3 linked regions of the Homo sapiens genome follow. The protein of the gene in region 2 interacts with the protein of the main gene of each other region in a pairwise test. Each region holds a gene or a part of one and is shown on either strand. Other genes may lie near its edges. The genes, in order: ZNF296, GRN and ZNF497.

Region 1 (3,744 bases), on a different chromosome or scaffold from region 2:
CCACCTAGTAAAGAGGTGGTAGTGACCTGGGTCCCCCACCCTCTGCATGGATCTCAAATTGAGCCCCCAAACCTGAATTTGGATTTCTATCTGGACCTTCGGGGTACTCTCAGTGGACACTTCCTAGGTGAACTAGCCTTTCCATTTTTCAAATTCTAGAGTCTTGGATGGGACAACCTTTGTGATACAACCAGTCCTGGGTCAAGAGCACAGGCCTGCATTCAAATTCAGACTTCTCTGCTCCCTAATTGTGTGACCTTGGGCAAGACATAGTCCTCTGTGTGCCTCAGTTGCTAGAATTCAGGGACCCTAGAGATCCCCTCCCTTTCAAGGGTGGTTGTGACCTCGCTTGGGGAATGGTTGAGAGCTTTGGTCCACATAAGCGCTCAAACAGCAGAGCCTGTGAAACCAAGGTGCCCATGATTCTCCAAGCCCTGTAGTGTTTTGTTCCAGCGATTCCATCACAGCCCCTCGCTCGCTCCTCCAGGCCACTCTCCATGCTCCAGCTCTAAAGCTGATTCAATCAGTCACAAGCCCCTCCTCTTTCCCACCACCAGACCCTCCCTGGCCCAACCCTAAATAATTCCACTTCTCAAAAGTCTCAGAAGGGCAAGGGCCAGGGGGCTGGAAACTAGGTTTGGATTAAGCCCTGCAGCCAACACTGACCAAAAGCTCACCGAGGGTCAAGCCCCATGTGAAGGCTTTTAATTCCCTCCCAAGAGAAGGAACCCGGGTGTCCAGCACCCGGGAGCTCGCTCAAACCAGGGGATTCCCAGCACGCGGGGCTGGGAGATTCCATCACCGAGGGAAGCCAGAAGCCCCTTCCTTGGCTCTGAACACTCAGCTGTACTAGCACCTCAATCAGAATTGACAGAGAGAGACAGGAGGGGGTGGCAACCTCCCCATTCCAGCTGGCCTCCACTCCCCCTCCCCCCGGCCGCTGCCCTCCCTAGAGGTCCCCTCCTACTGCCACCCTGGTCCAGCCACCTGGCCAGTTATTTCTGGCCAAGGGGAAGGAGAAGTGAAACCAGGTTGGGGTGTGTGTTGGGGGGGGCAAAATCCCGGGCTAGTCTTCTGGGGCTGGCCACACCCTGTAGGCGGCCCTCCTTCCCTGCCCAGTCCCCCCCCGCCCCCCCTCCACCGCCACCACTGGTCCCTGCCCTAGGACGGGCAGGCCCTGGCCACGCCTAGGCTGCACCCGATGGGGAGCGAGAAAGGGGAAGTAGTGCTCAGTGCCCTGCCGTCCAGCCCAGCCCCTTTCCAGCAGGAAGCCCAGCCCTCGAACTTGAGAGGGGGACTGCACCCGGCTTTACTCACCTGAGCCCTGGCCGCGGCTGGGGCCTCTGAAGAGCTGACAGCCCAGCTTCTTGTGGTCCATGAAGGCAGTGATGGCCTCCAACGGGAAGGTCTGCAGGCAGCGGCCGCAGGTCAACAGATCTGGGTGTTTGTCGGTCCAGGGCTGGCGGTCTGCAGGGAGGAAGCGGGTGGTGAGCGTGGGGTGGGGCCAGGATGGGGGCTGAGGGTGCTGAAGGAGAGGGGAAACCGAAGGTCAGAAGGGGGCCTGAGGGGCAGGACGGGGCGAAGGAGATAAGGCAGGGCGAGGGGCCCATGCCCAAAGGGAAGGGTCCCACCCGAGGGTCAAAGGTAAGGGAGGCTGGGCCCAGGGCCCGGGGTGCTCACCGGGATAGTTCGGGGTCAACGGCGTCCACAGGGTCCACGGGTTCCGCGGGCCGAGGGCGAGGAGGGCGGCCCCGGCGGGCATGGGGCCAGGGGAGTGGTGGGGTTCGCCGCCGAACCGCCCCGCCGAGGACACCTCCTTCGGGGAGAAGGGCCCCAGCCTTGGGGCCTGTTGGGGCTGCGCGTCTGGCTCGGGCTTGAGTTCGATGACGAGGTCCTGCATTTCCATCTCGTCGTCTGGGTTGGCGGCGGGCGCGGGCTCTACTCGGCGGGGCGCGCTGCCGGCCTTGCGGCGGGACATGAGTCGCGGGCCGGGCGAGCGAGCGGGCGGGCAGGCAGGCAGGCGGGCGGGCGGAGGACGCACGAGCGGAGGACGCGCGGACCGTGCGCGCTCAGGTGAGTGACTGCGGCGACCCGCCGCGAACTCTTACACGTGCTGGCCGGGCCCGTGGCTCCGCCTACCAGGGCGGGGCTCATGGGAGGGGACCGAGCCGCCCTGCTGGGGCCCTGACGGCGGCCTAACTCAATCTAGGCAGTGTCCCGTGCGTTTGGCTTAGTGACCAAATTTAATCACACCGAGTTCCCACAAGGCATTGAAACAGCTATCCCTGATCCCGTTTTAGGGCGGGTGAAACTGAGACACGGCATGCCCACACGCACCCCCAAGCGAGAAAAATAGTCGGTCACGTTTCTTATTAGGTGCCTGATAGTAATCTGGGCTATTTCATTAAATGCATTACAATAAAAATTCATTTTGCAAGCATTCACTGAGTGCCTCCTGTGCGCCAGGCTCTGTTTGAAGCCCTGAGAATACAGGAGGGAATAAACAGAAGATAATCTTTGTTTGCACGGAGTTCAGACGGTGGGGGAAGACACTATAAACATAATTACGTAAAATATAGATGGCCCTTCATGATGACCAGTGCCATGGAGCAAAAGAAAGCTGGAAAGGCGGAGAGGGTTACTGGGGTTGAGGGATTCAATTTTCTCCCCTATGATGGGAAAGGGCATGGTGGAGCTGAGGCTGGAGGGAAGGAAGCCCAGCCAGTGGGCCTGGGCATTGAGGAATTACAAGGAAAGGGAGAGGCAATACGGGTTGGGGATTGAGTTCAGTGAAAATATGGGGGCAGATCCAAGCAATCTTTTGATCGCTTTAAGGTCTTTTGGTTTTCCTGAGACCGGAGCCTTAGGAGGGTTTTGAGCAGAGGAGGACTGTAATCATACACATCGACTCTGTTCCTAGACCAGAAGTCGCCATTAAAACCAAATAGCCAAGCAGCTCACCTGCCTCCACTCCGCCTCCTTGAACTTCCCTCCCCTAAGCAGTTCTGTCTGCTCACTGTTTGAAGTGGCATCGACACCCTGCCCCACCCTCAATCCCTGATGAGTATTCTTTTCTTCCTGGCACCGACTGCACGACAGTATAGAACGGCTTGTGGACTGTCCTCTCCCCCACCCAATGCAAGCCCCCTGAGGTCAGGGCAAGAACCTGTCCTCCCCCAGCTGTCCTCAGCCCAGATGCTGATTTCAGATGCTGATCTCTTGGAGTTCTGCACATTGTTATTCAGGTCTGGGTTCCATTGTCCTCCTGAGAGCAGAGGGCCCTGACCAACAGTATCTAAAGTAGCCCCACCCTGCTGAAGGCCTTGCAAATTACACTCCATGACCTCCATCTGTCCCCAGTTCCCTCTTGGATCTCACTTTCTCCATCTGTCAAAGGAGGTAGGGCAGGTTGGAACTAGAGGGTTATCTGAGGTGGTTTCTTCTTCACTGCCGCCTCCTCTGATCACCCTTTTTTTTTTTGTAATTTTTAATTTTTCAAAAAAAATTATTTTTAAATAGAGACAGGGACTCGCTTTGTTGCCCTGGTTGGTCTGAAACTCTTGGCTTGAAGCGCTCCTCCTGCTTCAGCATCCCAAAGTGCTGAGATTACAGGTGTGAGACACTGCACTCAGCCTCAGACCACCCAATTTTAAGTTCCATGGCAACCCAGCCACCCACTATCCCATTGCCCTTATTTTACTCTTTTTTTTTTTTTTTTTTTTTGAGATGGAGTTTCACTCTTGT
Region 2 (3,744 bases):
AATCTGTCAGAGCTGGGTATCACCTATGGGCTATGCGGAGGGCAGAAAGCAATAGGAGCTTGGCCACCCACCTGCCCAGGCCAAGATGCTGTCCCCTCCCATATACCTCTGGGATTGGACAGCAGCCCCACTCCCCAGACGTGAGTTGGCAGCAGGTATCGGAGGAGGGACAGCTGCTGACATTATCACAGGGGACATCTCTCTTCAAGGCTTGTGGGTCTGGCAGGCTGAGGTGAGCTGGGGCCTTCTCCATCCAGGGCACCTGGTGGGGCCCCTGTTCACAGGTACCCTTCTGCGTGTCACACGTAAACCCCGCGGGACAGCAGTGTATGTGGTCCTCACAGCACACAGCCTAGGGCAGATGAAGAAGGGCAGGTGGGCACTGGGGCCCGGCTGCCTGCCACACTGTGCTCAGCCCACCCACCCGCCACCCCTGGGTACCTGGGTAAAAGGGCAGCAGCCCCAGGCCCCCGACTGTAGACGGCAGCAGGTATAGCCATCTGGGCAGCTCACCTCCATGTCACATTTCACATCCCCCACTGTGAGGGAAGCAGAGAGGACAGGTCAGAAGTGGCACTGGGGACCCTCAGGGGTATCAACCCTTTGCCGGCTCCACAGCTGGAACCAGGTGTTGAAGATGGAGGGTACCGCTTACACCACCTTGCAGTGATCCTAAGGCCAGGCCTAAAAGGGAGGAAAGGGGGCCCCACCCCTGTATCTGCACCCTGCCTCTGGTACCTGTGTGCGCAGGCAGCTTAGTGAGGAGGTCCGTGGTAGCGTTCTCCTTGGAGAGGCACTTACTCTGGATCAGGTCACACACAGTGTCTTGGGGGCAGCAGTGCAGGTGATCGGAGCAGCAGGTGGCCTGAGTGGGGACAGGGGTGGGTCTTTGTCACTTCCAGGCTCAGTAGCACACAGGGAGCAGCCAGGCTGATGGCTGGCACTGCCCCAATCCCCCACTAGGGGGTAGCATGAACCCTGCATCAGCCAGGCTCCCAGCAAGCAGCCAGCCAGCCCCATGCCACAGAGCCCCTGTAAGGTGCGTGTCAGGGCCAGGTGGCTGGGGGCACACAGCCAAGCTGGCTCCAGCCCCTCACTCACGTTGGGCATTGGGCAGCAGCCATACTTCCCACTGGGCAGCTCACAGCAGGTAGAACCATCAGGGCACCGGGACCGTGCGTCCGGACACATGACCGAGCTGGACAAGGCCACTGGAAGAGGAGCAAACGTGAGGGGCAGCCAGGATGGAGGAAACTTTTTCCTACACTTGGAGTCAATGAGGCCCCGCCCCAGCCCCTGGCCTGATGCTCTCCCACCTCCTCACCTGCCCTGTTAGTCCTCTGGGCAGGGAGCTTCTTTGCCAGGGGGTGGGTGCCCGTGGGTGTGATGCAGCGGGTGTGAACCAGGTCGCAGAAGGCACCGTGCGGACAGCAGTGCACCCTGTCTTCACAGCAGGAAGCCTGAGAAAAAATGGTCCTGACTCCGTCTTCACCCCCTGCCCCTGGCCCCCAACTCTGCCCCCACTTCCCTCCACATACCCCCATCTCCCCCAGATTTGTACCTGGGGCATGGGGCAGCACCCCCAGGAGCCATCGACCATAACACAGCACGTGGAGAAGTCCGGGCATTCGAACTGACTATCAGGGCACTGGATGGCACCCACGGAGTTGTTACCTGTGGACAAGATGACCCAGGATACTACCAGCCCACTCAGGGAAGGTGACTCCCCCATCACACAAGGAGCTGGTGGCACCAGGGCCTGCAAGCCCAGCTACTGGGGTTTGAGGGTGACACTAAGGCTCAGTGATCTCCTAGGCAGGCCTAACTCACCCTCCTCACAATCCAGTCCCTCCCTCAGCAAGATGGCATGGGGAAGGGGCACCCACTGACCATGGGTTGGTATTAGACCGGCCCAGCTCGACCTCTCCCCACCCCCACAACGCCTGGACCTGGAGTCTTGCACTTTCTCCCGCACCCTCCTATCCCCAGTGCTGCCCCTCTGTCCACAGCAGGGCTGTTGCTTAGTACAGATGCCACATGAATGAGGGCACAAGGGCAGGAATCAGGGCTGCCCCCGCCAGCTGGGCTCCTGGGTTCCAGACTCCACATGCTGCCCGTCTGCCTGCCCTGCACCCACACCCCAGCTGCACCTGATCTTTGGAAGCAGGATCGCCCGTCTGCACTGCAGTGGAAGCCCCGTGGGCAGCAGTGATGGCCATCCCCGCATGCCACGGCCTGTGGAACACAGAGAAACCTGCATTGGCAGGGCCCTTTTATCTGCAGGTGGTAGAGTGCAGGAAAAGCATAAATGCAGACCTAAGCCCCTCCACTGGGCTGATGGCACGCTCACCTCTGGGAAGGGGCAGCAACTGGAAGTCCCTGAGACGGTAAAGATGCAGGAGTGGCCGGCAGAGCAGTGGGCATCAACCTGGCAGGGGCCACCCAGATGCCTGCTCAGTGTTGTGGGCCATTTGTCCTAGAAAGACAGGGAAAATGATAAACCACAGACTTGTGCCTGGCGTCCTCCTCTGGCCAATCCAAGATGACCCTTTGGGAAAACCCAGGCTGCCAGCTCTTGCCTAGGCTGAGGGGCACTCACCAGAAGGGGACGGCAGCAGCTGTAGCTGGCTCCTCCGGGGTCCAGGCAGCAGGCCACAGGGCAGAACTGACCATCTGGGCACCGCGTTCCAGCCACCAGCCCTGCTGTTAAGGCCACCCAGCTCACCAGGGTCCACATGGTCTGCCTGCAAAGTACCAAGGAACGTCTGGCAACTGCTTAAGCCCACGCCACCCTTGATTCTAGGGTCACTCAGTACCCTAGCCCCAGGCCAAGGTCCTGGCCCAGGACTGCCTGAGCCTTCTCAACACCTCCCTGTCCAGGCAGGCAGAAATCTGCAGGGGCTGAGAGTCAGCTTCCTACAGCGCCCCGTGTGTGACACTTGCCCCAGCATGTGCGGACCTGTAAGCATGAATGCTGACATGCGTATATGTGTGGGTCTGAGTCCCCAGCACATGGCCTAATGCCTGGGCCTCACTGGGCAGGCTTATGAGAGTCAGGAAGACGTGATTTTTGTGGGTCTGATCTGTGCAGATGTGGGCCACCTCTGGGGTGAGGGGAAGGCATCAGTAGCCATGGGAGAGGACAGGGCTAGGGTGCAGGGAGGGAGTCCCCCCAGGAAAAGCCAGGGTTCCCCTCCAGATGCCTCCTTGCCTGACACTATGTTCATACCTGCACCCCGCTAAGGCCTTGCGGGAAGCGGCCACATGATGACATGGGAAACCACAGGGGTGAGAAAGTTGTGAAAAAGGAAATATGGTGGCCAGTGGAGTCTGGGCTGCCTTCCCCAGAGGTCACCATCTGCCCATGAATGTCCCCTCCTCACCCAGAGAAAAGGACACAGAAGCTGGGTCAGCCCTTGAGACACCTGTGTTCTGAGGGTCCCCCACACCACCAGGGCCCTCTGAGATTCCTCAAGCATGCTAAACCCTGCCCTTGCCTCTCCATCTATTCTGGAAGTGAAACTCAGCCACATGTGGAGAGAGACCACGTGTGCCCACTGGGCTGCCCATCTGAGTCACCAGGAGGAACTGAGCCTTGAGTCTCTGTGGAGAGCAGCCTCTCACTTCCTAAACAACTCTTCTCCCAGGCTCAGCTAGCCCAGCTAGTTCAGTGGGGTGGCCAGAGAGGTAACTCATAATGAAGAAGCAAAAACAGTAATGTCTGTTGAGCCTCTTGGGAGCCAG
Region 3 (3,744 bases), on a different chromosome or scaffold from region 2:
GGAATGAAGTGGCGCAATCTCGGCTCACTGCAACCTCTGCCCCCAGGATTCAAGCGATTCTCCTGCCTCAGCCTCCCCAGTAGCTGGGATTACAGATGCCTGCCATCAGGCCTGGCTTATTTTATTTTATTTTATTTTATTTTTTAGTAGAGATGGGGTTTCACCATGTTGGCCAGGCTGGTCCCGAACTCTTTTTTTTTTTTTTTTTTTTTTTTTTTTTTTTTGAGAAGAGTCTTGCTCTGTCGCCCAGGCTGGAGTCCAGTGGCGCTATCCTGGCTCACTGCAAGCTCTGCCTCCCGGGTTCATACCATTCTCCTGCCTCAGCCTCCCAAGTAGCTGGGACTACAGGCGCCTGCCACCATGCCCGGCTAATTTTTTTATATTTTTGGTAGAGCCGGGGTTTCACCGTGTTAGCCAGGATGGTCTCGATCTCCTGACCTCGTGATCCGCCCGCCTCAGCCTCCCAAAGTGCTGGGATTACAGGCGTGAGCCACGGCACCCGGCCGGTGGGCCGGTCCTGAACTCTTGACCTCAGATGGTCCACCCGCCTCGGCCTCCCAAAGTGCTAGTATTACAGGCGCGAGACACCTCGCCCAGCCTATGCAACATTCGTAAAATGACAAAATGGTAGAAATGAGAACAGATTACTAGTTGACAAAAAGAGGTTAACGGGGAGCAGAGGTAGGAGGGAAGGGTATGCGGCTCTGTAAGGGCAACACGGGGATCCTTCGTGATGGAAATATTCTGCATCTCAGTTGTGATATTGTACTCTAGTTTTTCTTTCTCTTCTCTTTTTTTGAGACAGAGTCTCGCTCTGTTGCCCAGGTTGGAGTGCAGTGGCGTGATGTGGGCTCACCGCGACCTCCGCCTCCTGGGTACAAGCGATTCTCCTGCCTGAGACTCCCGAGTAGCTGGGATTACAGGCACCAGCCTCCACACCCGCCTAATTTTTGTGTTTTCAGTACAGATGGGGTTTCACCATGTTGCTCAGGCTGGTCTTTAACTCCTGAGCTCAAGGGATCCACCCGCCTTGGCCTCCCAAAGTGCTGGGATTACAGACATGAGCCACCGCACCTGGCCTCTAGTTTTTCAAGATGCCACCTTTAGGGGAATTGGGTAAAGCGTACATAGGGTATGCATTACTTGTTACTGCATGTGAATTTATAATTACCTCAAATCAAAAGTTAAATTTTAAAAAAACGACATCTGATTTCAATAAAAATCCATATTTGTGTATTGAAGTATCAGAAATCCGGGTCCCCCAAGGGCCCATGTTTCTTAAGGCGGAGCCAGGCACCGCTGCCCCTCCATCCTGTGGTGTGCGACCCCGACCCGCCAGCCCCCAGCCGCATCTATCAGGGCTGCCGTCCTGAGTCCGTCCTCGTCGTGGGATAGCATGTGAGCCCCGTAAGGTCCTTCCTGTCGGCCTCACTGCTCCAGCCTCCCCGACGTCCTCACGTCCACGCTGCGTGCCCTTTCTGAGCCTCAACGCCTCCTCCTCACCTCGACATGATCAGAGCCACCTCCCGCGTCAGTCCCAGCGCCCACGCCCCCAACAACGGGCACTTGTCCGACCAGTCACGGGTACTTGTGTCTCCCCCACAACCCCCAAGGCCTAGGCTGGACAAACAAATACGGAGTGGATAAAGGGGAGGAAGCTGCGGCCAGGTGGCGCGAGGCCTGTGCGGGCAGCTCCGGAGGCTGGGAGGCGAGCCCAGCCTGGTGAGCTCCGAAACTACCCGGGGCTGGGGACTGATGAACGAATAAATGAATGTGGGAAGAAATGATGGCGCGGCAGGGCATGAGTGAATGAGTGAAAGAATAAACGAGCAGGAGGAACGATGCCACAGAACTGATCGCCATAAGGCTCGCGTTCACCGAGAGAACAGCAAACGGGAGCCATTTCCGTCCCGACCACGGTCGCCTCTGGCCCGTGCAGGGCCACTTCCGGGCCGCTCTGGACGGCGCGGAGGCCTATCTCTCGGTGGTCCCAGAGGGCCCAGCTCAGGGCCGAGGCCCGTCCTGCCCCGCGCGGCGGGAGTGGTTGGAGCCGGAGGGCGGATCTGTGCCTGGCCGAGGGTGTCCGTCGGCGTCACTCACCGTCCTCGGCCCGCCTCTGCGTCCACTAGGAGCGGCCTGAAAGAGGCCCGCACGCGGGCTCGAGCCGCGTGGAATGGTAGGAGGGCGGGCACCGGGTCTCCTGGGGGCGCGGTTGCATTCGGCAGAGCGGCCCAAGGCGTCGCGTTTCTCCCCACTGCGCCTGCGTAACTATGCCGCGGCTGCGGGCGCGCGCCTTCTGGTTCCCATGGGGACGGCGCCACAGCCAAGCTACTCGGGCGTCCTGCGTTGCCATGGATGCGCTCCGCCCCTTCCTGCACCCGGCCAGCCTCTGCGGCACACACCCAACAGCTACACAGGCGCCTGGGGCTGCCCGGGTCGCGGACGCAAGTCGGGCCAACGTAGCTTCTCCCTGGCGGTCCTCCTCCGGCCCCAGGCCGTCTTTACCACCCTGGAACCTTGCTGAGTTGACGCCACTGAGCTGCGTCTCACACCCACGCGCTGTGGAACACCCACCAAGCTGGAATCCACGCGGTTTTTAAAATAGAGTCGGGGGCCGGGCGCGGTGACTCACGCCTGTAATCCCAGCACTTTGGGAGGTCGAGGCGGGCGGATCACGAGGTCAGGAGATCGAGACCATCCTGGCTAACACGGAGAAACCCCGTCTCTACTAAAAATACAAAAAATTAGCCGGGCGTGGTGGCGGGCGCCTGTAGTCCCAGCTACTCGGGAGGCTGAGGCAGGAGAATCGCTTGAACCTGGGAGGCGGAGCTTGCAGTGAGCCGAGATCGCGACACTGCACTCCAGCCTGGGGCGACAGAACGAGACTCCGTCTCAAAAAAAAAAAAAAAAAATTGAGTCGGGATCTCAGAAGCTAAGCAGGGTCGGGCCTGGTTAGTACTTGGGAGACCGTCTGGGAACACCGAGTGCTGTTGGCTAAAATAAATAAATAAACCGGGCGCGGTGGCTCACGCCTGTAATCCCAGAACTTTGGGAGGCCGAGGCGGGCAGATCACGAGGTCAGGAGTTCGAGACCAGCCTGACCAACATGGTGAAACCCCGTCTCTACTGAAAATACAAAAATTAGGCTTGTTGGCGTGTGCCTATAATCCCAGCTACTCGGGAGGCTGAGGCAGGAGAATCGCTTGAACCGGGGAGGCAGAAGTTACAGTGAGCTGAGGTCGTGCCACTGCACACTCCAGCCTGGGTGACAGAGCAAGACTCCGTCTCAAAAAACAACATAGACCAGATGCTGTAAGCTAAAATAAATGAATAGCTAGAGACGGGGTCTCGCTATATGGCCCAGGCTGGTCTTGAACTTCTGGGCTCAAGTGATCCTCCCACCTTGGCCTCCCAAAGTGCTAGGATTACAGACCCGAGCCACTGCACCCGGCCTCCACGAGCTCTTTTTGTACCAATTTTTCCCAATTTGTACTAGGGAGCTCTCACCTCAGCCCAGGTGGTTTGGGCAGGTGTGGGTACATGGCCCAGGTCCACAGCACAGGGCAGTCCATCCCTCTGGCCCTGGCAGTGGTCACTTTGGACCTGTGAGCATCGTGGGACTTCTCTCTGAACTGTTAGGGCCTCTATCTGCTTTGAACCTGAGGCTGTGAGCATCTGTCAGCTGGGGCAGCTGCAGCCTTCTTGCCCCGCTGAAGGATGAATCTGTTAAGAGAATGGAGTCCA

The links.
Region 1: the proteins of GRN (region 2) and ZNF296 interact in binary tests that used the Homo sapiens proteins (3 or more experiments, as listed by UniProt).
Region 3: the proteins of GRN (region 2) and ZNF497 interact in binary tests that used the Homo sapiens proteins (3 or more experiments, as listed by UniProt).

What each region holds. Positions count from the first base shown.
Region 1 is NC_000019.10:45,074,396-45,078,139, forward strand, and holds the start of ZNF296 (zinc finger protein 296), read right to left. Parts: upstream 2,084-3,744; 5' UTR 1,979-2,083; coding exon 1,681-1,978; intron 1,468-1,680; coding exon 1,318-1,467; exon of another isoform or gene 1,232-1,317; intron 1-1,231. UniProt on the Homo sapiens protein: May be a transcriptional corepressor with KLF4.
Region 2 is NC_000017.11:44,348,158-44,351,901, reverse strand, and holds part of GRN (progranulin precursor), read right to left. Parts: intron 2,745-3,744; 5' UTR 2,738-2,744; coding exon 2,600-2,737; intron 2,477-2,599; coding exon 2,351-2,476; intron 2,236-2,350; coding exon 2,151-2,235; intron 1,675-2,150; coding exon 1,562-1,674; intron 1,461-1,561; coding exon 1,325-1,460; intron 1,212-1,324; coding exon 1,102-1,211; intron 866-1,101; coding exon 739-865; intron 540-738; coding exon 442-539; intron 353-441; coding exon 107-352; intron 1-106. UniProt on the Homo sapiens protein: Secreted protein that acts as a key regulator of lysosomal function and as a growth factor involved in inflammation, wound healing and cell proliferation. Regulates protein trafficking to lysosomes, and also the activity of lysosomal enzymes.
Region 3 is NC_000019.10:58,360,577-58,364,320, forward strand, and holds the start of ZNF497 (zinc finger protein 497), read right to left. Parts: upstream 2,176-3,744; 5' UTR 2,101-2,175; exon of another isoform or gene 2,050-2,100; intron 1-2,049. UniProt on the Homo sapiens protein: May be involved in transcriptional regulation.